Linked DNA regions of Homo sapiens. The protein of the gene in region 3 interacts with the protein of the main gene of each other region in a pairwise test. Each region holds a gene or a part of one and is shown on either strand. Other genes may lie near its edges. The genes, in order: TRAF3IP1, CLHC1, SGF29, PROSER3, C20orf202, CCDC102B and TFIP11.

Evidence for each region.
Region 1: the proteins of SGF29 (region 3) and TRAF3IP1 interact in binary tests that used the Homo sapiens proteins (3 or more experiments, as listed by UniProt).
Region 2: the proteins of SGF29 (region 3) and CLHC1 interact in binary tests that used the Homo sapiens proteins (3 or more experiments, as listed by UniProt).
Region 4: the proteins of SGF29 (region 3) and PROSER3 interact in binary tests that used the Homo sapiens proteins (3 or more experiments, as listed by UniProt).
Region 5: the proteins of SGF29 (region 3) and C20orf202 interact in binary tests that used the Homo sapiens proteins (3 or more experiments, as listed by UniProt).
Region 6: the proteins of SGF29 (region 3) and CCDC102B interact in binary tests that used the Homo sapiens proteins (3 or more experiments, as listed by UniProt).
Region 7: the proteins of SGF29 (region 3) and TFIP11 interact in binary tests that used the Homo sapiens proteins (3 or more experiments, as listed by UniProt).

What each region holds. Positions count from the first base shown.
Region 1 is NC_000002.12:238,351,518-238,355,017, reverse strand, and holds part of TRAF3IP1 (TRAF3-interacting protein 1), read right to left. Parts: intron 2,192-3,500; coding exon 2,068-2,191; intron 1,846-2,067; coding exon 1,809-1,845; intron 1-1,808.
Region 2 is NC_000002.12:55,176,794-55,180,293, forward strand, and holds part of CLHC1 (clathrin heavy chain linker domain-containing protein 1), read right to left. Parts: intron 989-3,500; coding exon 809-988; intron 1-808.
Region 3 is NC_000016.10:28,556,920-28,560,419, reverse strand, and holds part of SGF29 (SAGA-associated factor 29), read right to left. Parts: intron 1-3,500. UniProt on the Homo sapiens protein: Chromatin reader component of some histone acetyltransferase (HAT) SAGA-type complexes like the TFTC-HAT, ATAC or STAGA complexes.
Region 4 is NC_000019.10:35,756,725-35,760,975, reverse strand, and holds the start of PROSER3 (proline and serine-rich protein 3), read right to left. Parts: upstream 2,801-4,251; 5' UTR 2,761-2,800; coding exon 2,750-2,760; intron 1,651-2,749; exon of another isoform or gene 1,603-1,650; coding exon 1,506-1,602; intron 1,188-1,505; coding exon 985-1,187; intron 1-984. Other genes in the region: HSPB6 (heat shock protein beta-6), read left to right, coding at 3,968-4,165.
Region 5 is NC_000020.11:1,202,234-1,206,253, reverse strand, and holds the start of C20orf202 (uncharacterized protein C20orf202), read right to left. Parts: upstream 2,801-4,020; 5' UTR 2,669-2,800; coding exon 2,603-2,668; intron 1-2,602.
Region 6 is NC_000018.10:68,895,580-68,899,079, reverse strand, and holds part of CCDC102B (coiled-coil domain-containing protein 102B), read right to left. Parts: intron 1,862-3,500; coding exon 1,652-1,861; intron 1-1,651. UniProt on the Homo sapiens protein: During interphase, forms fibers at the proximal ends of centrioles to maintain centrosome cohesion. During mitosis, dissociates from the centrosome following phosphorylation to allow centrosome separation. Contributes to CROCC/rootletin filament formation.
Region 7 is NC_000022.11:26,505,974-26,509,473, forward strand, and holds part of TFIP11 (tuftelin-interacting protein 11), read right to left. Parts: intron 956-3,500; coding exon 802-955; intron 487-801; coding exon 330-486; intron 1-329. UniProt on the Homo sapiens protein: Involved in pre-mRNA splicing, specifically in spliceosome disassembly during late-stage splicing events. Intron turnover seems to proceed through reactions in two lariat-intron associated complexes termed Intron Large (IL) and Intron Small (IS).

The DNA.
Region 1 (3,500 bases), on a different chromosome or scaffold from region 3:
CTGTACATCCCTAATAGGATATACCCAACAAACAGGCAGACATACCTACCAAAAAAAAAAAAGTCCTTGGGCTGGGCTTGGTGGCTCACACCTGTAATACCAGCGCTTTGGGAGGCCAAGGGGGCCGATCACAAGGTCAGGAGTTCGAGACCAGCCTGGCCAACATGGTGAAACCCCGTCTCTACTAAAAATACAAAAAAATAACTGGGTGTGGTGGTGGGCGCCTGTAATCCCAGTTACTCAGGAGGCTGAGGCAGGAGAATCTTTTGACCCCGGGAGGCAGAGGTTGCAGTGAGCCAAGATCGCGCCACTGCACTCCAGCCTGGGCGACAGGGCGAGACTCCATGTCAAAAATAAATACATAAATAAAAATAAATAAAATAAAATAAAATAAAATCCTTCAGCGTTTCCAGTAATCCTATTGTTGTTAAAAACCAGTCGTGGTGTTCTAAAATTGCTATGTGAGCATATGAAGGATCATAAAGCATGGGGACAGCCGCTGCTGCTGGGAGCCAGGCTTTTTGGCATGAGATGGAAGAGATGCATATATAAAACCAAAGAATGCAGGCAAAACCCTACAATCCTAAATCGGAATTGGAAATATCATCACTAAGTCAGAATATACTTTCTTATTTTAAAAAAGTATATCCCTGCTTTTGCAGTGAAAATGCCTGGAAACAAGAAGCAACCCAGAGCAGTAAGCGGCCAGGTGCCTTGGAGAAATGAGGCAGTTATGGGGCAGGAAGTACACAAAATAAGCTGGAAACACCTTGTCGTATCAGAAAACAAGGAAGCTAAAGAGTGTACTGGGATGTGTCTAAAGGCCCCCAGAAAATAACTCCAATAGGCTCCCCTGGTCAAATACTGGGCAATCTGAACATTAATAAGAAAAACTGAGATGGGCTGAAATGAAACACATCCACTATGTTAAAAATCCGTGACTAGGCTGGGCACAGTGGCCCATGCCTGTAATCCCAGCACTTTGGGAGGCCAAGGCGGGTGGATCACTTGAGGTTAGAAATTGGAGACCAGCCTGGCCAACGTAGCGAAAACCTGTCTCTACTAAAAATACAAAAATTGGCCAGGCATAGTGGTGCACGCCTGTAGTCCCAGCTACTTGTGAGGCTGAGGCACGAGAATCACTTCAACCCGGGAGGCAGAGGTTGCAGTAAGTTGAGATAGCACCACTGAACTCCAGCCTGGGTGACAGGGCAAGACTCCGCCTCAAATAAAAAAGGGTGGCTTCATATAGATACCAAAAAAAACCCCAAACCCCCAAAACCAACAAGCCCTCGTTACTCACCTGTGATAGGTGCCAGGAAACAAAGTCATATTGTGAGAACAGATCTATAAAGGAAAGTACTCAGCCTGCCTCTTCTGCAGAAACTGTGTTCCAGGATACTCAAACCCTGGTGTGGGGAACGGGGTTTGCACTACTGAGTTGTCCAGCTAGAAAACCAACAATAACATTCCAGAACTAGACTTGCAAAGGGCCTCAGAGATCATCTACTTCCACAATTTAATCGTACGGAAGAGACGAGATGTCATCTGCAGGACAGTTGCCAGTGAGTTTCCAGCTTCCAACTGTGCCCTCCCCCTCCTCTAAGGATGGGGAGCAGCAGCCATCGCCTTAAGAGTAATCCATGCCCGCAGGGTCCTATGTACCACCAGTGTGATCCCGCCAGTGTGACCCAGACCAGAACCTGGCACACAACAGTCCCTTGCACTGGATCCTTCCAGGCCCACGTGGAGAAGGTGCATGAGCACACACACATGGACATACATGCACACTCGTGCCCAGGACTCACCATGCTTCTCCTCTTCTTCTAGTTCCACTGCTGTTACCTGAGCAGGAAAGGAAGGGGGAAAAAGAAGATTCAGGCTTGTTGAATTTTAAAGATCATGCTTCTGTGGATCTCAAAAAAAGAACAACAAAATTAACGAAGGTAGAAAACTAACTGAAAAATTACAGGACATTTTTGTCTACATAAATCTAAAAGCTAGACTATTAATCTCAATGAAGGTAAAACATTATTATTAAAAAACATCATATTTCGGTTAACTAACCATTTCAATTTCTGACATTTCAGAGAGCTGAGGGGCAGCTTCCACCACAAATTGATCATCCTCTTCATTGTCAGAATTGTGTGACTCTGTAATCACATTTGAAACGGTTTTACCACTCCCTGACCTAAATAAAAAGAAATTAGATTAAATTAGAATTACACATTTTCATCAGTCCCAAGCATCTGAAACTGTGTCAGAGGTCGGCAGAGAGGAATCTAATCACCAACCATCTCTAGCTAGAACAGCATCTCAAGCTACCCGCTGAAGCTAAGATGGACTGTCTGCAAACAGTGTCCTCTGCAAGCCCTCCAGGCCTGAGTCCCTGTGAGCCTCGCCCTCCACCCCCACCCAGCTTCCCCACGTCCCTGTGCTGCCCAGGCCTCCTGGTCCACACCTGGCCTCCCGTCCCCACAGCCTCGTCATGCCCTCTACTGCACAAAGACCCTCAGGGCCTCCGCCTCTCCCCTGACTGCGCTCTCAGTGACACCAGCCCTTCACCTGCTGCTTTCTACCTGGAGGCGCTTATTGCCCTGGGTCACAAACCTCAGGGCAGGGGCCACATTGGGGTCCCACTGACCAGGGCTGACCCCAGACCTCTCTTCACACAGCCAGCTGGAGGCCCCTCATTCAACTCCTAGTCACAGTGGCTGCCCTATGTCCCGCTCAGCACCACGTACACACTGCGCTCCACCCAAGTCCACATCATTCTGGGCAAGTCAGCGTCCAACAGCCTGGCCCTCCAGCCCCAGACCTTGTCCTCCTTGGTGACAGCCTTCACCCAAGGGCTCTCTCATGCTCTCCAGGGCCACCTACTAGAACTGCCCCACCTACAGCTGCCCCACTCCTCCTCACTCAGGCCACTGTCAGCTCACTCTGTACAAATGTGAGCCCCCGACCCAAACACTCTACAGGCTCCTTAATGGCCCCTCCTGCCTTTGTTTCTTCCCTACACACTTGTGCTTTAAGCAATCACCTAACTCCCCCTGCCCCGTTATCGCAGTGCTGCATGCGTGCACATGCATACACACACACACACACACACACGCATACACACAAGCACATGCACGCACACGCGCGCGCGCGCACACACACACACACACACACACACACACACACCAAAATCCTCCCTTGCTTCAGTGCCATGCACAAGGTCCAGAGGGAATGTAGACACTTGGGAACGACCTCTGAAAATAACACCCATTGCCCCAAACATCCTCGACTTCCTCAACTGGGTCCTTGAGACACTCAACAACCACCTGTGTGGCTCCGCCAGGACCAACCTCACTTCGAACCCGCTGCTCTGTCAGTACCAGGAAGTCCAGGCTCCCGTCCCTCGTCTCTCACGCTCCCAGCACACCCTCACTGTGGCCCACGATCCACCTCCTCAACACCTGCGCCCCTGTGCCTGCCGTGATCGGCAGGCCCTCTCTGTC
Region 2 (3,500 bases), on a different chromosome or scaffold from region 3:
TGTTTTCAAGTAATTTAAAATGAAGTTGTCTGTTCAACTTCCTATATTAAATTAATGAAAAGAAAATAAAAGTGAGTTTTAATTATTCTCTCTCTCATTTTTTTTGAGGCAGTGTCTCACCCAGGCTGGAGTGCAGTGGCACAGTCACGGCTCACTGTAGCCTTGAGCTCCCTGGGCTCAGGCGATCCTTCCACCTCATCCTCTCAAGTAGCTGGGACTACAGGTGCATGCCACATGTGGCTAATTTTGGTATCTTTTTCATAGAGACACGGTTTTGCCATGTTGCCCTGGCTGGTCTTGAACTCCTGAGCTCAAGCGATCCACCCGCCTCAGCCCCCCAAAGTGCTGGGATTACAGGGGTGAGCCACTGCACCCAGCCTAATTAGTTATTCTCTAATTCACAGCAGAGTTAGGTTCAGAGTGAATAACATATGTAAATACACATACATTTGGTTTAGGAATTAAAACATATAGTTTATATCTACATAACATTTAAAATACATATAAAAGCTAAATATACACATATGTCAATATATACAAAGTTTTTAGTGTTAGTGATCATAATTATTGTAATATTCCCCTCAAGCTTCATAAAGATACTCCCTTCATTCTAATTCTCTCAAGAAATATATCCTATTACCAATAGATTATTATTTACATGGCAATCTTTACATTTATAAACTCCTAAAGTTAACTCTTGCTAAGAAGGAACTCTTAGGGAAATTTGAGTTAACTCATGCATAACCATCTTGAACCTCTCCCTAGATAACCCACTACTATTTCTCCCACAACATTTTATTCTACTTACCTATCCCACCTTTATTGATTTCTTGAAGTAGCTTAATGCCAACTTTTTTCATGTCTGCAGAGAACAGATGAAGTATAGCAAGACCAAAAGATAAAGATGGTTGTTTCTCATTCAACTCTTTAGTGAGACACTGAATTAATTCAACTTGGGGACATGACATTAATAGCTGCAACAGGTCATCTGAAGGCAAAAATGAAAAAGTTTATCTCAATGTCCTAATATCATAAATCAACTAGAAACTAGGACTAGCTAATGTCTATACCTGCCAATCAACAGTTTTTCTAATCCTTTCAAAGCCCTCAATGACCCACTCCAACCTAAACTCAACGGTACTATCCCCTAGCCCCCGTCAAAAAAAATCATGCTCAGCATAGCAAAAAACAAAGGAAAACTACCCATAAGAGTATCCAAAACATAATCAAATAATTATAATGAAAAAAATGTGGTATAATAAAAATACAGATTGGCTACTAGGAAACCTGAATTCTAATCATAGCTCCATCAGTCACTTACTCTTTTGGAACTCAGTTTTCACATCTGAAAAGTGTAGTATTAGAGGTCTCCATCTAATACTACAGTTTGTTTGTCTATATCTTGTTGCTCATATTTGGACCAAATTCTGGTGAGTATAATGTCTTTCTTTCTGTGCCTTGCACAGAAAAAGCAACTCAGTAATTTTTTTCCTAAAACTATCAAGCATTTAGAAATTCAAAAATGAAAACTTTAAGAAGCCAGTAGCTATTTCAAGTAGCCAGAGGTGGAACCATATGAAGTTTCCTATATTTGGCCACAAAAAGAACAATTCCATATGGGTTAATCTCTATTGGGTTAACCCAATAGTTAACCATTGAGGTAATCTAAAGCTACAATTATGATTTGTATTCTTAAATTTTTTCAAAACAAAGTCTCACTGTGTGGCCCAGGCTGGAGTGCATGGCTCACCATAGGCATAATGATTGTGTACTGTATCCTCAAACTCCTGGGCTCACGCAGTCTCCCGCCTCAGCCTTCCCAGTAGCTGAGATTACAGGCATGCCCCACTCTATACTCTCAAATTTATAAACTTGGTATTAACTTCCTAAATATTTTAAAGTAAAAATATTATTTTGCGGCCACAATAGAGGTAATTTTCAGAATAACTTCTGAGAGCCTTTCAAGGACTACCCGAAACATAATTTGAACTCTGAAAGCCTTGGGTTTTTAAAATGTATTTAATATATAGAGATGGGGTCCCACTATGTTGCTCCAGGCTACTCTTGAACTCCTCGTCTCCCTTTTTCTTACTACATTTCAAAATCCATTTTATTTTTTAAAAAATTATTATTATTATTATTATTATTATTATTGGATAAGGTCTCACTCTGATGCCCAGGCAGGAATGCAGTGCCACAATCACAGCTCACTGCAGCCTAGAACTCCTGGGCTCAAGCGATCTTCCCATCTCAGCCTCCTGAGTGGCTGGGACTACAGACCCATCCCTAAAATTTTTAAATTCTAAGAGTAATTAAAATCTATATCCCATGTCTAAACATTAACTAATATAATTCTTACATATGGAAAAATAATAGTTAACAACACAGAAACTGAAACTGTATACTTAGGTAATGGAATATTAATTAATACCTACTATGCCAGATTCTGTCCTGTCACTACATAACCAAATCACTTAGCTCTAGCTGTGCCTCAGCCTCTCTGTGGAAACATACTATTTTTGCATCTATAAAATGGGACAATAACAAAACCTACCTCATAGAGTCAACATAAGGATTAAGTGAGATAATCCATGAAAAAAAGCCTAGCTATTATTACAATAATAGTATAGGGCATGCTGTTATTAATGAAGAAATTTGTAACTTAAAAAAACAACAACATAGATTCTAAGAAAAAGTCAATTAATTGCTTGAAAATGACCAGATTCAACAACTACTAAAACTCCTTTTTCCTGGAATAATGTGACCTAAAAATGGCCATGTTTGGTTCCATTTTGCATCTTCTTAGAACTGGGATACATAGCCTGCAAATCAGGACAGGCACTGGCCTGGGGGATGGGGAGATGTCAGCAATGCCTGTACTTACAGTTATTGCCAAACTAGATCCAGAATAAGAGCTCTGCTCTTCCAACTAGGGTCACCCTAAGGTCCACAGTTCTCTCAGATTACCGTTCAATTGTAATCTCAGATTACTGTTCAATTGTGTTTTAAAATTTTGAAATAAATTAGAAATTCTTCATTTCTGATGCTTATATTACAGTTCAAAACATTATATATCACAGGCTGGGTGCGGTGGCTCACATCTGCAATCCCAGCACTTTGAGAGGCTGAGGCGGGCAGATCACAAGATCAGGAGATCAAGACCATCCTGGCTAACACGGTGAAACCCTGTCTCTACCAAAAATACAAAAAGTTAGCCGGGCGTAGTGGCGGGCACCTGTAGTCCCAGCTACTTGGGAGGCTGAGGCAGGAGAATGGTGTGAACCCAGGAGGCAGAGCTTGCAGTGAGCCAAGATCGCAGCACTGCACTCCAGCCTGGCAACAGAGTGAGACTCCATCTCAAAAAAAAATATATATATATATATCTCACAAATAAGTTATTTTTAAAAATCATATATGTAGTATGTTCTAGTATATCTGCTAAATCTATCTTTAAAACTGTATATTTCCAGGACTATCTGGCTTATTAAATGTTTGTATTT
Region 3 (3,500 bases):
ATGGGGTTTCACCATGTTGGTCAGGCTGGTCTCGAACTCCTGACCTCGTGATCCACCCACCTCAGCCTCCCAAAGTGCTGGGATTACAGGCGTGAGCCACTGTGCCGGGCCCATTCATTGCCTTTTTTTGTGAACACAGATCATATTTTCCTGTTTTGTAAAAATATATTTTAAAATTTTCGTGGTTTTTTTTTTTGAGTCAGAGTCTTGCTCTGTTGCCCAGGCTGGAGTGGTGGCACGATCTCAGCTCAACCTCCACTTCCTGGGTTCAAACAATTCTTGTGCCTTAGCCTCCTGAGCCTCCTGTGTACCACCACGCCTAGCTAATTTTTTTGTACTTTTAGTAGAGAAGGGGTTCTGCTATGTTGGCCAGGCTGGTCTCAAACTCCTGTCCTCAAGTGATCTGCCTGCCTCAGCCTCCCAAAGTGCTGTGCTGGGTTTACAGGCATAAGACACCATGCCCAGGCCATTTCTTGTGTCTAAGAATTTTGGATTATATCCTGGACATTGTAGATGATGTGTTGTAGACTCTGGATTCTGTTATGTTCTTGAGAGTTTGGTGTTTTGTTTCTGTTAACATGCAGTTAATCACAGCTGAACTCAAACTCCAAATCTAGCTTCCCTGAGGCAAGCATCAGCTGAAATCTGTACTGATCTTTTAAACTTGGCTAAGTTGCTTGGAATATGCCCCATGTTTGTCTAGTTCAGAGGTTTAGGCAGACTTTTTAAAATAACAGCTTAATGGGCCGGGTGCGGTGGCTCACACCTGTAATCCCAGCACTTTTGGAGGCCAAGGTGGGCAGATCACTTGAGGCCAGGAATTCGAGACCAGCCTGGCCAACACTGTCTCTACTAAAAAAGTACAAAGATTAGCTGGGTGTGGTGGCACACACCTGTAATCCCAGCTACTTGAGAAGCTGAGGCACAAGAATCGCTTGAATCCGGGAGGCGGAGGTTAAAGTGAGCCAAAATCGCACCACTGCACTCCAGTCTGGGTGACAGAGTGAGATTCCGTCTCAAAACAACAACAACAACAAAAACAGCTTAATGAAGATAATTCGCATGCCATACAATTCTCTATCTCTCTATCTACTTATTTGAGACAGGGTCTCACTCTCATTGCCCAGGCTGGAGTGAAGTGGTGTAATTACAGCTCACTGCAGCCTTGACTTCTTTGGCTCAGTCAATCCTCCTGCCCCAGCCTCCCAAGTGGCTGGGACTACAGGTGTGCACCACCACGCCCAGCTAATTTTATAATTTTCTGTTGAGATGAGGTCTCATCATATTGCTCAGGCTGGTCTCAAACTACTGGGCTCAAGCAATCTTCCTGCTTCAGCCTCCCAAAATGTGCTGGGATTAAAAATGTGAGCCACCGCACCCACCCCAATTCACTTTTTTAAAGTGTGCAATTCAGTGTTATGTTAGTCACAAGGTTGTGCAAATATCACCACTATCTAATTTTAGAACATTTTCACCAACTCTCCTTAAAACCTTATACTCATTAGCAGTCATTCCCCACCCCCTTCTCCTCTCAGTCACTGGCAGCCATTATTCTAATTCATATTTGTAGATTTGCCTATTCTAGACATTTCATATAAATAGAATTGTACTGTGACCTTATGTGACTTGCTTCTTTCACTTAGCATGTTTCCAAAGGTCATCAATGTCACAGCATGTATCAGTAACTTCATTCCTTTTTATGGTTAAATAACATTCCATTCTATGGATAGATGTCGTTTTTAATCCACTCATCTGTTGAAGAATTTGTGAAGAATTTGGAATCCCTTCTCTGGGGCTATCTTCTTTCCATCATGGGCTTTTTAATGCCTCATGACAAGGCATTTAACAAAACCAATAAACAGGCGGGTCGCAGTGGCTCATGCCTGTAATCCCAACACCTTGGGAGGCCAAGTACAGAGGATTGCTTGAGCCCAGGAGTTTGAGACCAGACTTGTCAACATAGCGAGGCTCTATCTCTACCAAAAATAAAAAGTACCCAGGTGTGCAGCCAGGCGTGGTGGCTCACACCTGTAATCCCAGCACTTTGGAAGGCCAAGGCGGGTGGATCATGAGGTCAAGAGGTCAAGACCAGCCTGGCCAACATGGTGAAACCCCATCTCTACTAAAAATACAAAAAAAAAAAAAAATTAGCTGGGCATGGTGGTGCATGCCTGTAGTCCCAGCTACTTGGGAGGCTGAGGCAGGAGAATCACTTGAACCCGGGAGGTGGAGGTCGCAGTGAGTCGAGACTGCACCACTGCACTCCAGCCTGGCGACACAGCGAGACTCCGTTTCAAAAAAAAAAAAAAGTACCCAGGTGTGGTGGTGGACTCCTGTAGTCCCAGCTTTCAGGAGGCTGAGGCAGGAGGATCTCTTGAGGCCTGGAGTTCAAGACCAGCCTGGGAAACACAGCAAGACCCCGTCTCTGAAAAAAAAAAAAAAAAAAAAAAAAAACAGAGAAAGAAAAACAGAAAATACTGGTGACATAATTTAGGCTTCTGGATAGAGTCCCATCTGAAACTGATTTACTCCAGGACTCTTCAGCTACAGTCTGTGAGGAAAAAACAAAACTTTCTCCTCTGCTGTCACAATATAGGATAATCAACACATAAGATTTCCGTGGCCAAATGTGTGGAGATTTCTCCCCAACACCAATCAATCCATTGAGTCTGCAGTGGATACACGCTGGATGTCCTCTAATTCAGTTTATTTCCAACACTATCCACCCAGACAGAGTGTCAAACCCCACAGGTTGAGGGCTCAGTCCCACGAGCATGTCCCCCCAATTCTCAATGCCAGTCACAAGCCCCCAGTTGCTTTATTTGTGCTTCTGACCAACTGACTATAAATCAGGGTTTCCATGACTCCCTCCTTGGGTTCCATTAATTTGCAGGAGCAGCTCTCAGCACTCAGGGAAACACTTAGGTTTACTGGCTTATTATAAAGGATGTCACAATGGATACAGATGAAGGAAGAGGTGCACAGGGCAAAGCATGTGGGAAGGAGCGAAGAGCTTCCATACCCACCCTGGGCACGCCACCCTCCAGGAAGCTCCAAACTGGGATACAAACCAGATATATATTTTACAATATCACAGAGTCAACAAACACCCCTTTCAGCTTAGGCTAGTCAGAGTAGCTTTTTGTTATCTGCAACTGAGTAGCTTGACTAATAAGAACTTTCATTAAGCACGGTCTGAAGAGATAGCCAATTCTGAGGGACAAAGGCTGCAGGGTAGAAGCATATGTTAACCACTAATACCCAGCCTAAAATTGCTGGCCCTTTTACTATAATAGCATAAAAGGCCTCAAATAAACAAATCCAAATATCCTACACTTAAGCCACTCTAAGATTAATCCCACAGGGCTTAAAACAGTAAGAGCTTTGTTCTGGGTCAAAGGGAAAGAGGAACCTAATACCCCACACTCACATCCCACACTCTCAACCCAGTCACTAGCAATGAGAATCTGCAAACTGGGTGCAGTGGCTCATGACCGTAA
Region 4 (4,251 bases), on a different chromosome or scaffold from region 3:
AGGGAGGAATAAATTCTATCTTGTTTCAGCCATAATTAATTTGGGACTCTTTGTTACAGCAGCTGAACCTGTATTCTACAAATCTAAGTGGTGACTATGTGAGAAGCACTGCTAGAGATCATTATATATAGTAACTCACTGAAAGCTCAAAACAGCCCTAGGGGATGTGTACTATTAATATGCCCAATTTAGGCCTGGCAGTGGCTCACACCTGTAATCCCAGAACTTTGGGAGGCTGAGGCAGGTGGATCACCTGAGGTCAGGAGTTTGAGACCAGCCTGGCCAACATGGTGAAACCCCATCTCTACTAAAAATACACAAAATTAACCAGGTGTGGTGGTGGGCACCTGTAATCCCAGCTACTTGGGAGGCTGAGGCAGGAGAATCACTTGAACCCAGAAGGGAGAGGTTGCAGTAAGCCGAGATCATGCCACTGCATTCCAACTTGGGCAACAAGAGTGAAACTCCATCAAAAAAACAAAAACAAAAACAAAACAAAACAAAACACCCAATTTAGAGATAAATAAACTGAGGCTGGGCATGGTACGTCTGGCCTGTAATCACAGCACTTTTTGGAGGCCAAGGTGGGAGGTTTGCTGGGTGTGGTGGCATGCATCGTAATCCCAGCAACTCAGGAGGCTGAGGTGGGAGGACGGCTTGAGCCCAGGAGTTTGAGGTTATAGTGAGCTGTGATTGTACCACTGACCTCCAGCCTGAGTAACAGAGCGAGACCCTGTCTCTAAACAAATAAATAAATAAATAAAAAGAGATAAAGAAACTGAGGCCAAGATCATACAGAGAGTTAAATGACAGAGCTGGGATTTGAACTCAGGCAGTCTAGCACCAGAGTTCTTAACACACATAAACTGCCTGGTCCTAAAAGAGTGCTGCAGAAACAGCTCTGGCCATGATGATTATTACTGCATGCCTTCTCCCTCCCTCTAACCCAAAGCCTCTTTTTCCCCCAGGGCTGCTGGTACTTACTTGGCCACCACGGAGTCCCCGCTGTCAATCAGGGTGGGTGCTGGGGAGGCCCACATCTGTCCCTCAGTGGTGCTGGGCAGGGAGGGGGTCCCTGAACTGGATGGCCAGGACTCCTCAAACAGCTCAGGGGAGTTGGGACCTGTGGCTAGAGCCTTGGGAGCTTGTGGGAGCCTGGATCTCTGAGACCTGGATGGGCTCAGGGTCTAAGATCAGGGAAGAGCACAAGAAGAAAAAGTGTGAGGTCTCATGGGTCATCCCTGCAGGGGAACCAGGACACACACAAAGTCTCAGTCCAGAGGGGAGGAAACACATCCTGTAATGATAACAACCTAGTGTGATGGGGGCTCAGATGGGGAATCCAGGTGGTAGAGAGGGGGACAAGGGCAGGGCCGTGGGGAGGGGACAAGGGGCTGTCTCTTAAATCTCTCATCCCTATCTCTCATCACATGTCTTCCTACCCTCTAAAGGTCATTCTCTTGCTACTGGGCTGGCACTCAGCACTCTTTGAGGGGTGTCCTCACCTTGGGACACCAGGTCTGGCTCTGGGATGGCCAGTAGTGGCTTCGACCCAGGGGCGCATCTCCAAAGGGACTATCTTGAATGGAGAAAACTGGCAGGCTGCAAGAGGAAAGTGGGGTTCAGGCAGCACGTGGTTTCGCCGCAGCCCTGGGGAGGGGGACATTAGAGGAGGGCAGAACCAGACAATTCCCATAGATTCCTGGAGGAGACGGACTGTCATTTCCATGAAGCACCGTTGCACATTCAGGATATCGACAGTGGAAGGGTGAGTCCTGGGAGCCCGCCCCTGGAGCAGTCTTAACAGGGAGCAACTCAGGAACTGACAGCCGGTGGTTCTCAACCCTGGATCCAGTCTAGGAGGGGCTTTTCAACGTTACAGGCGCGCGGTTCCCATTCCAGACCAACAGAATCAGAATATCTATTAGTGGGGCTGGGCCTCCGTGTCTTTTCCGCAGCGTCCCAGGTGATTGCGAAGTGGAGTTCAGGTTAAGAATCGCGGCTCGCCGGGCGTGGTGGCTCACGCCTGTAATCCCAGCACTTTGGGATTACACCGAGGCGGGTGGATCACTTGAGGTCAGGTGTTCGAGACCAGCCTTACTAACATGGCGAAACCCCGTCTCTACTAAAAATATAAAAAATTAGCCAGGCGCGGTGGCAGGTGCCTGTAGTCCCAGCTACCTGGGAGGCTGAGGCATGAGAATTGCTTTAACCCGGGGGCAGAGGTTGCAGTAGCCAAGATTGTGCCACTGCACTCCAGTCTGGGCCAACAGAGCGAGAGACTCTGTCTTAAAAAAAAAGAAAGAAAGAAAGAACCGCGGCTGGATTATATCACCGAGCATTTCCCATACATTCCTGGGGGACACGAAGGCAAAGGGTAGATGGACTACAAGCCCCAGGATCCACTGGGCTCCGCCTCCGCGAGAAAGTTCAAAGACAACGCCCAGGCGTGTCTGGGGGCCATTTCAAAATGAAGAAATTCAGATCTCAAGCCTTTCTTGGACACCTTTAGAGGCAATAATTCCTTGGGGCCCACTCAGAGAGGAACATAAGACTCTTAGGGGACCCCCGGGATGCTAACGGCTACGGCTGGAGAGGCCAACGGCTGTGGAGCATGTTGGGAATTGTAGTTCCAGTGCGGTGGAGCCCTAGCGACTCCAGACCGTATCCAGCCCGTCCTAGGCTGTGCTGCTCTCGCCGTTGGTCCTCCCCAGCCTCCTGTAGTCCCTGGAAGAGCGATCGGCCTCACCTGCGGTCCATCCCGCGGCTCCCTCCGCGCTTCCGGCCGCTCTGCTCCTTCACCCAACAGGCCCCGCGCGCATCTCCGTCGCTTAGCAACGCCCTATCAGCCCCGCCCCTCTCTGTGCCCGCGCCGGAGGCGAGCGGCCTCCAAGGCGACCAATGAAAGAGAGGAAACAGAAGTACCCGGAGGGAGGTGTTTCAGGATTGGCTGGGACGACTGCCTGCCCGACAGGGCGTGTTTGATTGGAGAACCTGCCGAGTGTAGCAGTAATTGGCAAGACCGTGCACCAATGGGAAGGATCTGAGGCTGGGCTTGCGGTTAGGAGGTGATCTAAAGTACCCTCGCTTAAAAGTCCCGCTTTTTAAGCGCCTTCTTGCTGCAGAAGTCCTGTCCCGACCCCGGTCTAACTACCATTCTTTCTGTTGCAGGGGCAGTGGGGCGGGTTGGGGGGGGGGCGCGCTCTGCCCTCTCTCTAACCGCTATTCCTCCATCAGTTGGGCCAATCAGTCCGTCCCAACGGTCATCTAACTTCTTTCTTGCTGCAGGAGCAGCTGGTTGCATCAGTTGCCAGGTCTGGGCTCCTGGCCGAGGTAGCGGGATCAAAATGAGCTATTTCCAGCCCCAGCGCGCGGCCCCCGGGGGGCCAGCCTGAACTGTTCATGCTCGCGCCCCCTGGCCTCTGCGCACCAGAGGCTGAGTCAGAGGCACAGAATTAGGCCCGGCCTGCCGGGGGACTGGGCCCAAGGTCTGGCTGAGGATAAGGGTAGGGAGGGCCTGTTCTATGTCCTCCTGACATCCTGGCGGGGCTACCGCATTCTCCAGGAATCTGCTCCTAAAGACCTCCATCTGCGTCATCCTCAGAGCTGCCAGGGGGGAGGCAGTGGATTAAAGGGACTGGAAACTCTTCCGTGGGCCTCTTGGGTCCTGGGCCCCAATCACCACGCTGTGCTCCCCACACCCGCAAGGCTCCCCCTCCTCAGCCTTAGTTTCCTCTTCTGGAAATTGGGGAATCTTCATGTCACCTTCTTGACAGCATTTGCCAGGCATCCAGCAGGCGCTTAATAAATGGCCAAGTCATTGTTTGGGTTTCTAAATAAGGCTCTCCTAATGGCCGGGTCTGGCCACGGTCCCAGTGTCCCTGGGCAGCCCTCCGAGGGGCCGGCACAGGGCGCACTATAAATGAGCGGCTGCGCACGCAGGGGCACTGCAACGCGGAGGAGCAGGATGGAGATCCCTGTGCCTGTGCAGCCGTCTTGGCTGCGCCGCGCCTCGGCCCCGTTGCCCGGACTTTCGGCGCCCGGACGCCTCTTTGACCAGCGCTTCGGCGAGGGGCTGCTGGAGGCCGAGCTGGCTGCGCTCTGCCCCACCACGCTCGCCCCCTACTACCTGCGCGCACCCAGCGTGGCGCTGCCCGTCGCCCAGGTGCCAGGCCTGGGGAGGGGTGAACTCGACCACTTCCATTGCCAGGGGTCTGGGGCAGCCTGGGGTGGGAACATGTGAGAGAATGT
Region 5 (4,020 bases), on a different chromosome or scaffold from region 3:
TAAACAAAAGCTTTTTGGTGGCCTTAATAATTTTTTGGGGCATAAAGGGTTCCTAAGACCCAAAAGTTTGAGAACTGCTGCATTAGAACTCTCCTGTCATCTTCAGCCATCTCCATTCTTTCTCCCATTTTTTCCTGAGAATTTTTTCCCATACATTTTCTCTCTTTTTCTTTCTGTTTATTTATTTATTTATTTATTTTTGAGGCGGGGTCTCACTGTGTTGCCCAGGCTGGAGTGCAGTGGTGCAATAACGGCTCACTGCAGCCTCGAGCTCCTGGGTTCAACTGATCCTCCCACCTCAGCCTCCCGAGTAGCTGGGACTCCAGGTGCACACCACCATGCCCGGCTATTTTTTGTAGAGGCAATGTCTTGCCATGTTGCCCAGGCTGGTCTCAGACTCCTGGGCTCACGCGATCCTCTCAACTCAGCTCCCAAAGTTCGCTTTCTCTTTAAAAATGTTAAAATTCTATTTTTTGACTAAGTAATTCTTAACACATGATAGAAAATTTAAAAGCTACAAAAGGACATATATTTAAAAGTCTCTCCCACCCACCTCACTTTATCCCTCAACTCAAGCGTCCTTCTCCAGAGGCAGCCACTGCAAATGCTTCTGTTTTTCCTTCCAAAGCTGGTCGGGGCAACACATGGTTAGATATACAGATTCTCAGCCTCTCTCTTTCTCTGTCTCTCTTTGCAAGAGATACTTATGAACATTATTTCCCCACTAAAAATAGTGTTTTCATTTTTGTGACAAGCTGATTACAAGTAAGAAGACCAAGTCTGCATCCTCTACTCAAGCATGAGTAACACTGCCAAGAGAATATGTAGCTAGAAAGAGAGATGTGAGGCCAGGCCCAGTGGCTCCCACCTGTAATCCCAGCACTTTGAGAGGCCGAGGTGGGCAGATTGCCTGAGGTCAGGAGTTCAAGACCAGCCTGGCCAACATGGTGAAACCCGGTCTCTACTAAAAATACAAAAAAATTAGCCAGCCGTGGTGGCATGCGCCTGTAATCCCAGCTACTAGGGAGGCCGAGGCAGGGGAATCACTTGAACCCAGGAGGCGGAGGTTGTAGTGAGCCGAGATCGTGCCACTACACTCCAGCCTGGGCGACAGAGTGAGGCTTCATCTCAAAAAAAAAAAAAAAAAGGAAAGACGTGAAGCAAAGGTGTAGTCGGCCTCCCTCAGAACACTGGGACGACTCAGGCTGCAGAGCGAGTGGTCCTGGGCCCATTTTTTCCTAATTCCTCAGAAAACATTCACTCTGTGTTTTCTCGATTTTAGGGTTTTCCTCCTGCACATATTTCTGGGTATGCGCCTACAAGACCACAGTGGGGTTCCCAGCACGGAGGTGGTGATGAGGCATCCAGGCACCCACAGTTTCAGGGAGCATAAGGAAGACAGCTGCCCAGTGCTGGATGCCTGCTGACTGTGGGAAGCTGCAGTCCCTGCTGCTGGAATTCCCTGGTCCCATGAGAAACCCTACTGGGTCAGCCCTTCCTCTGGGGTGATGACAGGGTTGGGTCCCAGCTGGCCTGTTGCCTGGCAACCCAGAAAGGTCATTTTTGGACAATCCTGTCTGTCTCTCCCCAGGATGAGAGGTGTGTATATTGAGAAACAAACCTCTTCTGAGGTTCCCTGAGCTGCCTCCTCTCTCCTGGCTGGTGTCCCCACACACTTGGGGGCACCCCTCTTTTTTCGGACTTGGAGAAAATACCATAATGAAAGGCATAAGCCTGGCTTCCTGAGCAGCAACCACAGGACCAAGTAACATAACATCGGGTCAGGAGAGTTAGTGCTCCATGGGGGAGGCCCTTGCCAATGGGAAATGAGAGACAGGAACGAGCTGGGCAGATGAATTTCCTCTCGTTCTCTCTCCCCCAATGTGCAGTTCCTCCTTCAACCCCTGCAGAGCATCTCAGCTGCTGAGACACCCACTGGGCCTCCTTAAGGCAACTTCTGAAGCCGTAGGCTGCTTGGTAATACAATGTCTGGCGTAATTGCCTGGCATAGCATTGGCCTCTGCTGCCACACCCTATGTTCCTCCCTATCACCACCCTTGGCTTGTACTTCCAAATAAAGTGCTAGTTTCTCAATCCTTGTCCAAGCCTCTGCTTTCTAGGGGACCCAGGCTAAGACATTGGGTGTACGCATGTCCATCTGGGTCAGGGTTATAATAGCCAGCACCACGGTGCCAAGTATTCATTAAGAGGATTACAAGCATCTCTTCAGTGAATCCTTACAATACCCCATATGATATTGGTACTATTGTTATTCCCATTTTGTGATAAGGAAACTGAGGCTCAAAGAGATAAATCCCCTGCTAGAGCCACACAGAGGACTCAGCACACACGGAGGACTCAGTGTCATTCTAAAACCAGTCTGGCCAGCACCACACCCAGCACCTCCCATATAGGCCACGACCTACTTATCCCTGAACCTGAGATCACAATTGTGCATTGTGTGGTAGGTCCCAGAGGGGAGACTGCAGGGTCCATACCGTAGCCTGCAGCCTCTGCCCCAGGGGGGACCCGGGAAGGAAAACCAGAGATCTTTGGAAAATATGTAGTCGGGGCATCAAGGAAAAGCAATGCAAAACCTTACCAGCTCCTTTCTCAGCCACTCCAAGGTCTGCCCAAGACTCGGGCTGGGCTCTTCTGCTATTTTCATCTCAGTGTTCTTAGGAGTGACCTTGACACTGACCTGGTTCTGGGCCCGAGGGATCTTTGACTTGTACATTCCCCCAACTCTTTCAGACTGGCAGCAGGTTCTGGCCAAATCACTGAAGATGGAGTTAATGAGAGCAGGAAGTAGCTCACATTGAAAAATGTAATCTGGCTTTTTTTTTTTTTTTAAAGGGCTTTAGTGCTCTGAACAGAACAAGGAGGAAGGGAGGGAGACCATTATGGGTCCGAGTACCTTGGAGCCTGCTGTTCCAGAAGCCAAGAATATGTGATGCCAACAGGATCACAGAGAATGCAAAGCTTTAAATGGCAACAATATGGTTATTATGAAAATAGGCACTCTTTTCTAAGGGTTTGCTTTGTGCTTTACATATAAACTATGTATATGTCTCATTTGGCATATACCTCCACGGGTGTCCCAAGTCCCTGTCCTCATTTACTTATCTATAGAGTCCAGATAAAGGAAATGCTCACTTTCCAAGTTTCCTTGTTTCTGGAATCCCCATGTGACCCATTTCCAGCAAATGAGATCAAAGCAGCAATTTGCTGTTAGGCTTCCAGAAAAACTTTTACCTTCCTAACAAAAGGGAAAATGTCACTGCTGCTTCCCTTTTACTCCTACTTTCTCCCTTTTCCTTCTGCCTTGAATGTGGATGTAATGTCTGGAGCTATGGTAACTGTCTTGCGACCATAAGACAAAGCCCAAGAAAATCACAGAGCCATTAGAAATCATTGCACCCCTGACTCGGCAACAGCATCTATATGAGAAAACAGACCCGATGTCTAATGGAACACTCTGCTACTTGCAGGCAAACACAGTCCTGACACACCATTTATTCTTCCCATTGTTATAGGAAAGGGGTCCCAACCCAGACCCCAAGGGAGGGTTCTTGGATCTCATGCAATAAAGAATTCAGGGGGAGTCCATACAGTAAAATGAAAGCAAGTTTATTAGGAAAGTAAAGGAATAAAAGAATGGCTACTCCATAGATAAAGCAGCCTTGAGGGCTGCTGGTTGCCCATTTTTATGGTTATTTTTTGATGATCTGCTAAACAAGGGGTAGATTATTCATGTCTCCCCTTTTTAGACCATATAGGGTAACTTCCTGATGTTGTCATCGCATCTGTAACCTGTCATGGCGCTGGTGGGAGTGTAGCAGTGAGGATGACCAGAGGTCACTCTTGTGGCCATCTTGGTTTTGGTGAGATTTAGCCACTTTCTTTACTGCAATTGTTTTATCAGCAAGGTCTTTACGACCTGTATCTTGTGTTGATCTCATCCTGTGACTTAGAATGCCTTAACCATCTGGGAATGCAGCCCAGTGGGTCTCATCCTCA
Region 6 (3,500 bases), on a different chromosome or scaffold from region 3:
CAGTCTTCTAAGTGATCAGCATACCCACTGACTTAGACCTTTGAGGATCCTCTCAGTTTCCAAGTTCTGCTTAGTCCCAGCCCAAATAACTACATTGTCAAAGAGACCAGGTCTGGACTCGGTGTGCCCTGATGACAGGTTACGCCAATGCCAGCTCCAAACAGGTCTCAATTTTTCCCGAAAGATATACTTTATATTAATACATTTTGATACAACTAGAAAGGTGCCAAAATCAAATATAATCAATTGCTTCTTAATCTGTGTCCCCTTCCACTTTATTCTTAGCAATCACTATAATGTTTTATTTATAAAAATTTGTGTGTTTGACTCCCTATATAGACTCTAAGCCCATGCTGGGTGGGGATAATGATTCATTGATTAATATTCTCATTACCTGCATATAGAACAGTGACTGACACAGAGAATAATACGAATAAATGTTTGTCTTGTTTGAATAAATCAAATAAAAAGTATTTCTATAATCAAACCACAGTCCATAATTGAGATAATTCTGCACTTTTTAGAGTAGAGATCTCCAAAATAAGATGTCTACAGATTTATCAGTGTACATATGTCAGAATCAAATACATTATTATGGATAGTTTATGAATCAATATAATAGAAAATTATGGTCACGGACTATAACATTTAACTTTAGATATTTGCATTGCTAGGTCATGAAACACTAATACAATTTAATCTTGCATTTGCAATAAATCCCTAGATTCATGAAAGAATGATGAAATAATATGGAATTCAATTTTTCTGGCCATTTAGGTTTTAGAGCTTATGTGAGTATGAATGACTTAAATATCTCAAAACTATGAACTTATCAAATTCACCTTTTAAAACTGTTAAAGAAACTGAGTGAGAAATAGAATTGTGCATTAAGATGCTATATATAATTGAAAAATAGAAACAAGGTAAATATAATTTACAGCACATTGACACGAACCCACATTAAAACTATAAGACTGCCATTAAAAGCACATTTAAAAATCTGTAAACTATCAAAAAAATGTCCGTCTATAGCATAAACTATATCTACTGGCTTGGGGATAAAACACATCCAAAATTAAATTTCCCAAATTTAAATTCTGAATGTTATCCTGGTTTTAAGATTTATACCACAGGCTGGAAAAATTATTTGAAAAATTATGCATTTCATTAGCTCAAAAATAATCGTTCTGAAACTGACAAAAAAGAACCAGAAAGCAGTGAGTTTCAGCTAAATTTAAATGTTTATGCAGATACTTACCATAGCTACCAGCAAATGCTTATTGTATAGTCGCTTGAATTAATGAAAAAATCTTTATTGGAAATAAGATCATTAGCTTAGAAAATACTGAGACAAAGCTTTAATAAGAAACAAAAAACCAGAAAGTTCTATTTCTTACTTCATTTTTCTTCTTCCTTTTGGAAATCTTGAAACTGTCTGAAGATTTGTCATATTTTAACATTTGACACACTTTGTTTCAGATGCATGAACGTTATTTTACATCCTAGTGGGCAAAAGAGCAAGGAGTATCAGGTATTAGCTGGCACAAAAGGAAATATCCAAATGTGGAGGCGTGTACGAGTGAAGACAGACTCTGCGTAGGCATCAGAGTGAGATTAGACAGTGAGAATTTGCTCCAAGGAGCACCCATACCTGGTTTTTTTCTTGCAGATCAATTTGTGACATCTTGAAATCAGGACTTTGAGAGTTTGCACTTAATCTATTTTTCTTATCCAAAAGCTCTTCCATTTCTTTCACCTGGATCTTCAGCCTTCTATTTTCTCTCTCCAGTCCCTGCTTTTCTCTTTCAAGTATTTCCCTCTTGTCCCACTCCGAGGTATTTTCAGCTTGCAATCTCTCTAGCTACACACAGAAAACACAAAGAAGCAGCATGCAGCATTTGCAATTGCCAAAAGATAATGCCACCCACAACCAGACTCCCATTAAGAAAAGTTCATGGATATGTCCACTGATACAATTTTAAAAAGAAAATTCTATTTGTTTGAAAACATGAGAAAAATACAAAAATCCTAAGATCAGGCCAAACCGTAGATAAATATACTTTTCCTCTTGGTTCATGTAACTATCTCTACAGCCATATGTACCATATTTTTCAAATATATGTGTCAAGTGAAGAACTGCTGCTCTTGGGAACATTAATCTCCACTCTCAACTGATAAACATTCTCAGTGGAGAAGACACAATATCATTTCATGGGCAATTTTGATTGGATATATTTCATTTATTCATTCACTCAATTATCTAGGGAATAGACAGATGCTATATGGATCTCTCTATCTCTATCTCTCTATCTCTCTATCTATGCAACATTTGCAGTTGCCAAAAAGTAATGCAAAAAGTAATTTAATTTTATATTGAAAAAATATATATAATTTATCATTTTATATTTTAAAATTTTACATTAAAACATTTTCAACATTAAATTATATAAAATTCAAACTATACCACAAATAAAATCGTATTGGGACATGGCCACGCTCATTTCTTCACACTTTGCCTATAACTGCCTTCACACACAATGGGTAAGTTAAGCTGTTGAGAGAGAGACCATATAGGTAGTAAAGCCCAAAATAGTTACTTTGTGGTCCTTTACACTAAAGTTTTGTCAACCTCTGCCCTCTTCCCATGGTTCTCAACCAAGGCTGCATGGTATATCAACATGAGGAGATTTTTATTACTATCAATGACCAGAAGCCTACTCTAGAAATTCTGATTTAAGATAATTTTAATATCTCCTTTGGTTTTTGTTATTTTAATGTCTTTAAGTTTTAAAGAGGCAATATCAAATGTATTTATTTTCTGCAGTTTTATTACATCTAAGTGCTTATTATTATGAGATGAAATTATATTCGTCTGCTATAATTTTTCTGTGGACATTGTAAGTAGAAGTGAATAGTAGCTTTTTTGTCTCTAAATTATAGTCCTGAGCTATGCATTCTAATGTGACTTCACCATTTATTCTCTGGATAAGCTTAGTCAGGTAACTTCATCTACCCCAATGTAGACAACTTATTTAATCTGACAAGGTTTGTGAGAAGTGAAATTAATCAAAGTAATTAGAAAGCACTTTGTCTAGCAATGTAACACTTAAAGGAGAAACACTGTGGTAATATAAATTTTTTAAATGTATGTTTCTCTCATATATTTAGGCATATGGATATCGAGACATCAATGTAATTTATTGCATAAATCTATACAGCAGAGTAACTCTTTACAGTAGAAAATCTATTAGAATCTCATCCTGGTCCCACCATTTACTCATTGTCTAATTCTGGACAAGAAATTTATTATCTTATTAAGTTTTCTTACTAGTAAAATTAGTATGATACCATACATATAATACCATAAATACAATAGCACAAATACCATATTTGTGGTATTGTAGGGACAGAAGAGGGTCAACTACTCAAAATTCCTTGCAAACTATTTAGGATGATTAGAGTATGAGGCATTTTAAAAATATCTCAAAAGGATAAAAATT
Region 7 (3,500 bases), on a different chromosome or scaffold from region 3:
AAAGTGCTGGGATTACAGGTATGAGCCACCACACCCAGCCTCATTTTTGTTTTTAGAAGCACTGGTCAGGACCAGAAAAAAAGCCTGTTTTCAACCTGTTTGCAGCCTGTTTTAGACCCTAACCCTTTCCTTGCTGTTGAAACAATTACTTATTTAACTTGAGCTTTGATAAAGCAAGGTAGCTTAGGAACGCAAATGTCTTGTGCTGGCAAACCAGGCTGGAGAGATAAAGTGCTTTTAAAAGGGAAAAGCAAACCTCCTCTCCCAACGCCCCTCTCCTTCCCTATGCCTGCCCTCCTCCATCATGCAAGACGACAAAGGTGCAATACCTTGTGCATTCTTCCCGAGGCCCCGTCCAGGGACGTAGCCCATCTTCTGAAGAAGCTTCTGTCCAATTCCTTTTGTGTGTCTTTCCCAGCTGCCGAAGTCCATGAAAGATTTGGTTCCTCCTGCAAAACCTTTCTGGCTGGGCTTAAAATTGCCACCCTGCAAAAAAGAAAAATCAAAGCTTAGTTAATGGAAAAACAAAATGAAGAAAAATCTAAGAAAGCTTGGCCAACAGGAAAATGGCCTAAGTTATACAGCACTATGAAAAGTGTCATATGAACCAAAAATGTGTGTGATAACGTGTCAGGAAGGAAGAGACTGCACTACACACTTCACAACTCACAGAAACCTGCCACCAAAAGGAGACACTCACGAAATTCATTCCAGATGAGTTTCTCCCTGGCTAGAAAATGCTTGGGCCACAATGACCTTTGAAGGATATTCCTAGGGTCACAATCCTGCAATAGAGACTACCGTTTTTAGCTTCCTTGGTCCAAAATCCTTAGGAAAGTCGTCCTGCTTAACAGGTTTCTCTTCGTCATCAGAATCTTCCAACTCTGCCTCCTCCGCTGCCCCTTTCTTGAGCCCTGCGCTGATGAAGTTGACTGGCGCAGAGTAGTCACGGGCCCTGTAGGCACAGAAACAAAGCCCCACCAGGTCGGTAAAGAACTCTTTTCTCTGCAGCGATCCTTTTGCAGAAACTACGTGCTTGAAGACTCCTTAGAGTGAATCTCATGGGAGGTTTTTTAAAAAAGTAACACATTTTTTAATGTGTCAAAAAATCCAAAGGACCCCAGATTTGGCTTCCTGTAGTCACATTTAACATTTTACCTGACATATCCCTCTACGGCTGAAGAGTTATCACATCAATGTAGGGTTGATTACAAATTCAAAATATGATGTGATAATACAATTTTCCTACATTTTAAAAAATTAATTTATCATAAAAAGCAATTGTTTTGAAAACTATTTCAAGTACAAAAATCCAACAGGAGCAGAAATTTTGATGGAAAATCATAAATAAAACCCATTGAAAGATTATATGAATGTAAAGCATGTAACAATTATATTAATCAAACTTAGAAAAAGCTCCTAGCCATTAAATTTATTTGAATGTGAAAATTTCCAGCCAGGGCAACATGGTGAGACTTCGTCTCTATAAAAAAAAAATAAATAAAAATTAGCCAGGCATGGTTGTGCAAGCCTGTGGTCCTAACTACATGGGAAGCTGAGATGGGAGGATTGCTTGAGCCCAGGAAGTTGAAGCTGCGGTGAACTATAATCATGTCACTGCACCCCAGCCTGGGCAAAAGAGTGAGACCTTATCTCCAAAAAAAAAAAAAAAAGAAAAGAAAATTACACTAAAGTCCCCTAAGAAATAAGAAATTAACTCTATAAAATGAAATATATTGATTTAAACTCTGACTGCTTCAAGTACTTACATTAAGCCATTAACCTCAGGTCTTTTTTGTATAAAATAAAATTGATATATTTGTACTGTGTGGTTTAAAAAAGAAAAAATTACAATAAAAAACCCTGGAGCCAGGTACAGCGGCTCATGCCCATAATCTCAGCACTTTGGGAGGCTTGAGGCCAGGAGTTCAAGACCAGCTGGGCCAACATAGCAAAATCCTATCTCTAATAAAAATACAAAAAACTAGCTGAGTGTGGTGGCACACGCCTGTAATCCCACGCCACTCAGGAGGCTGACGCATGAGAAACGCTTGAACCCAGGAGACAGAGGGTGCAGTGAGCTAAGGTCACGCCACTGCACACTCCAGCTTGGGTAATAGAGACTGTGTTTCAAAGAAAAAAAGAAAACCTGGGAATACAGCAAATAAAGGGATGCCTTGTAAAATGACCAACCTAGTAATTCAACACCCTCAGGGCAACAACAGAATTTAGGGAGTTTTTTCCTAAAATTGTAATATAACTTAGTGATTTAGATCCCAAACTCTAGAGTCAGATAGGTCCAGGTTCCAATTCTAGCTTAGCCTCTGCCTAGTTGTATGACCATTAGCCTCAGTCTCTTAATCTGTAAAATGGGGACAATAATGGTACCTTTCTCATAAGGAAAATTAATCCAGGTTTATGAAATAGCCAGGACAAGTAAGCAGCCAAGAGATGTTAGCTATTATTATTATCTTATGATTATGCAATTCTTGTTCCCTGATCTATTTGTCATCCACTTTCAGACTTCCTTGTGGATGAGAAGTTTGGACTAATCTCTATACTCTTTCTCCCCCAGCCTCCTTTGAAAAAGGCACATTCTCAGCTGGGTGTGGTGGCTCACGCCTGTAATCCCAGCACTTTCGGAGGCCGAGGCAGGCGGATGACAAGGTCAAGAGATCCTGGCCAACATGGTGAAACCCCGTCTCTACTAAAAATACAAAAATTAGCTGGGTGTGATGGCACATGCCTGTAGTCCCAGCTACTCGGGAGGCTGAGGCAGGAGAATCACTTGAATCCAGGAGGCAGAGGTTGCAGTGAGCCAAGATTGCACCACTGTACTCCAGCCTGGCGACAGAGCAAGACTTCATCTCAAAAAAAAAAAAAAGAAAAAGAAAAAGGCACACTCTCAATAGGATAGAGCCTAGAGGCCACAGGTGAGGCCATGGAGGAAAAAACCCCCAACCTGGCACACCCTGGTTGAGTGAGGTTCAGCCAGGGCACACATAACCTTGTGCTGGGGAGAAGACGTGCAGCCTGAATCCTCATTGCCCACCACTATCCTAGACCAGTCCTCCACTACCTGTGCAGGGACCACTGGCTTGGCCTCCTCACAGTCTTCCACTGTGGCTCCATGCCTATTGAGCACACCAGCAAAAGGGTCTTCTCAAAACATAACCCAGCCCCACATCACACCCTCTCTATCACACACACTATGCTACCCTTCCCCCTCTCTGCTCCAGCCCCCAAGCCTTTCATATCCTTGTGGATACCGTGATGCTTCCCATCAAGGGCCTTTGCATATTGGGACCTCTTCTACCACCCTAGTTACCTTCTACTGTCAGTCATATCAGCTTAAGGGTCACTTTTCTCCACAGAAATCTTCCTTGACCTCTCAGAATAGATGAAATGCCCTAAAATGTGTTCTCCCTCATGTCCTCATGTCCCTCATGTCCTGCATCACAGTCACAAGTTTGATCGTCTGAGTTGTTAATGCCTATTTC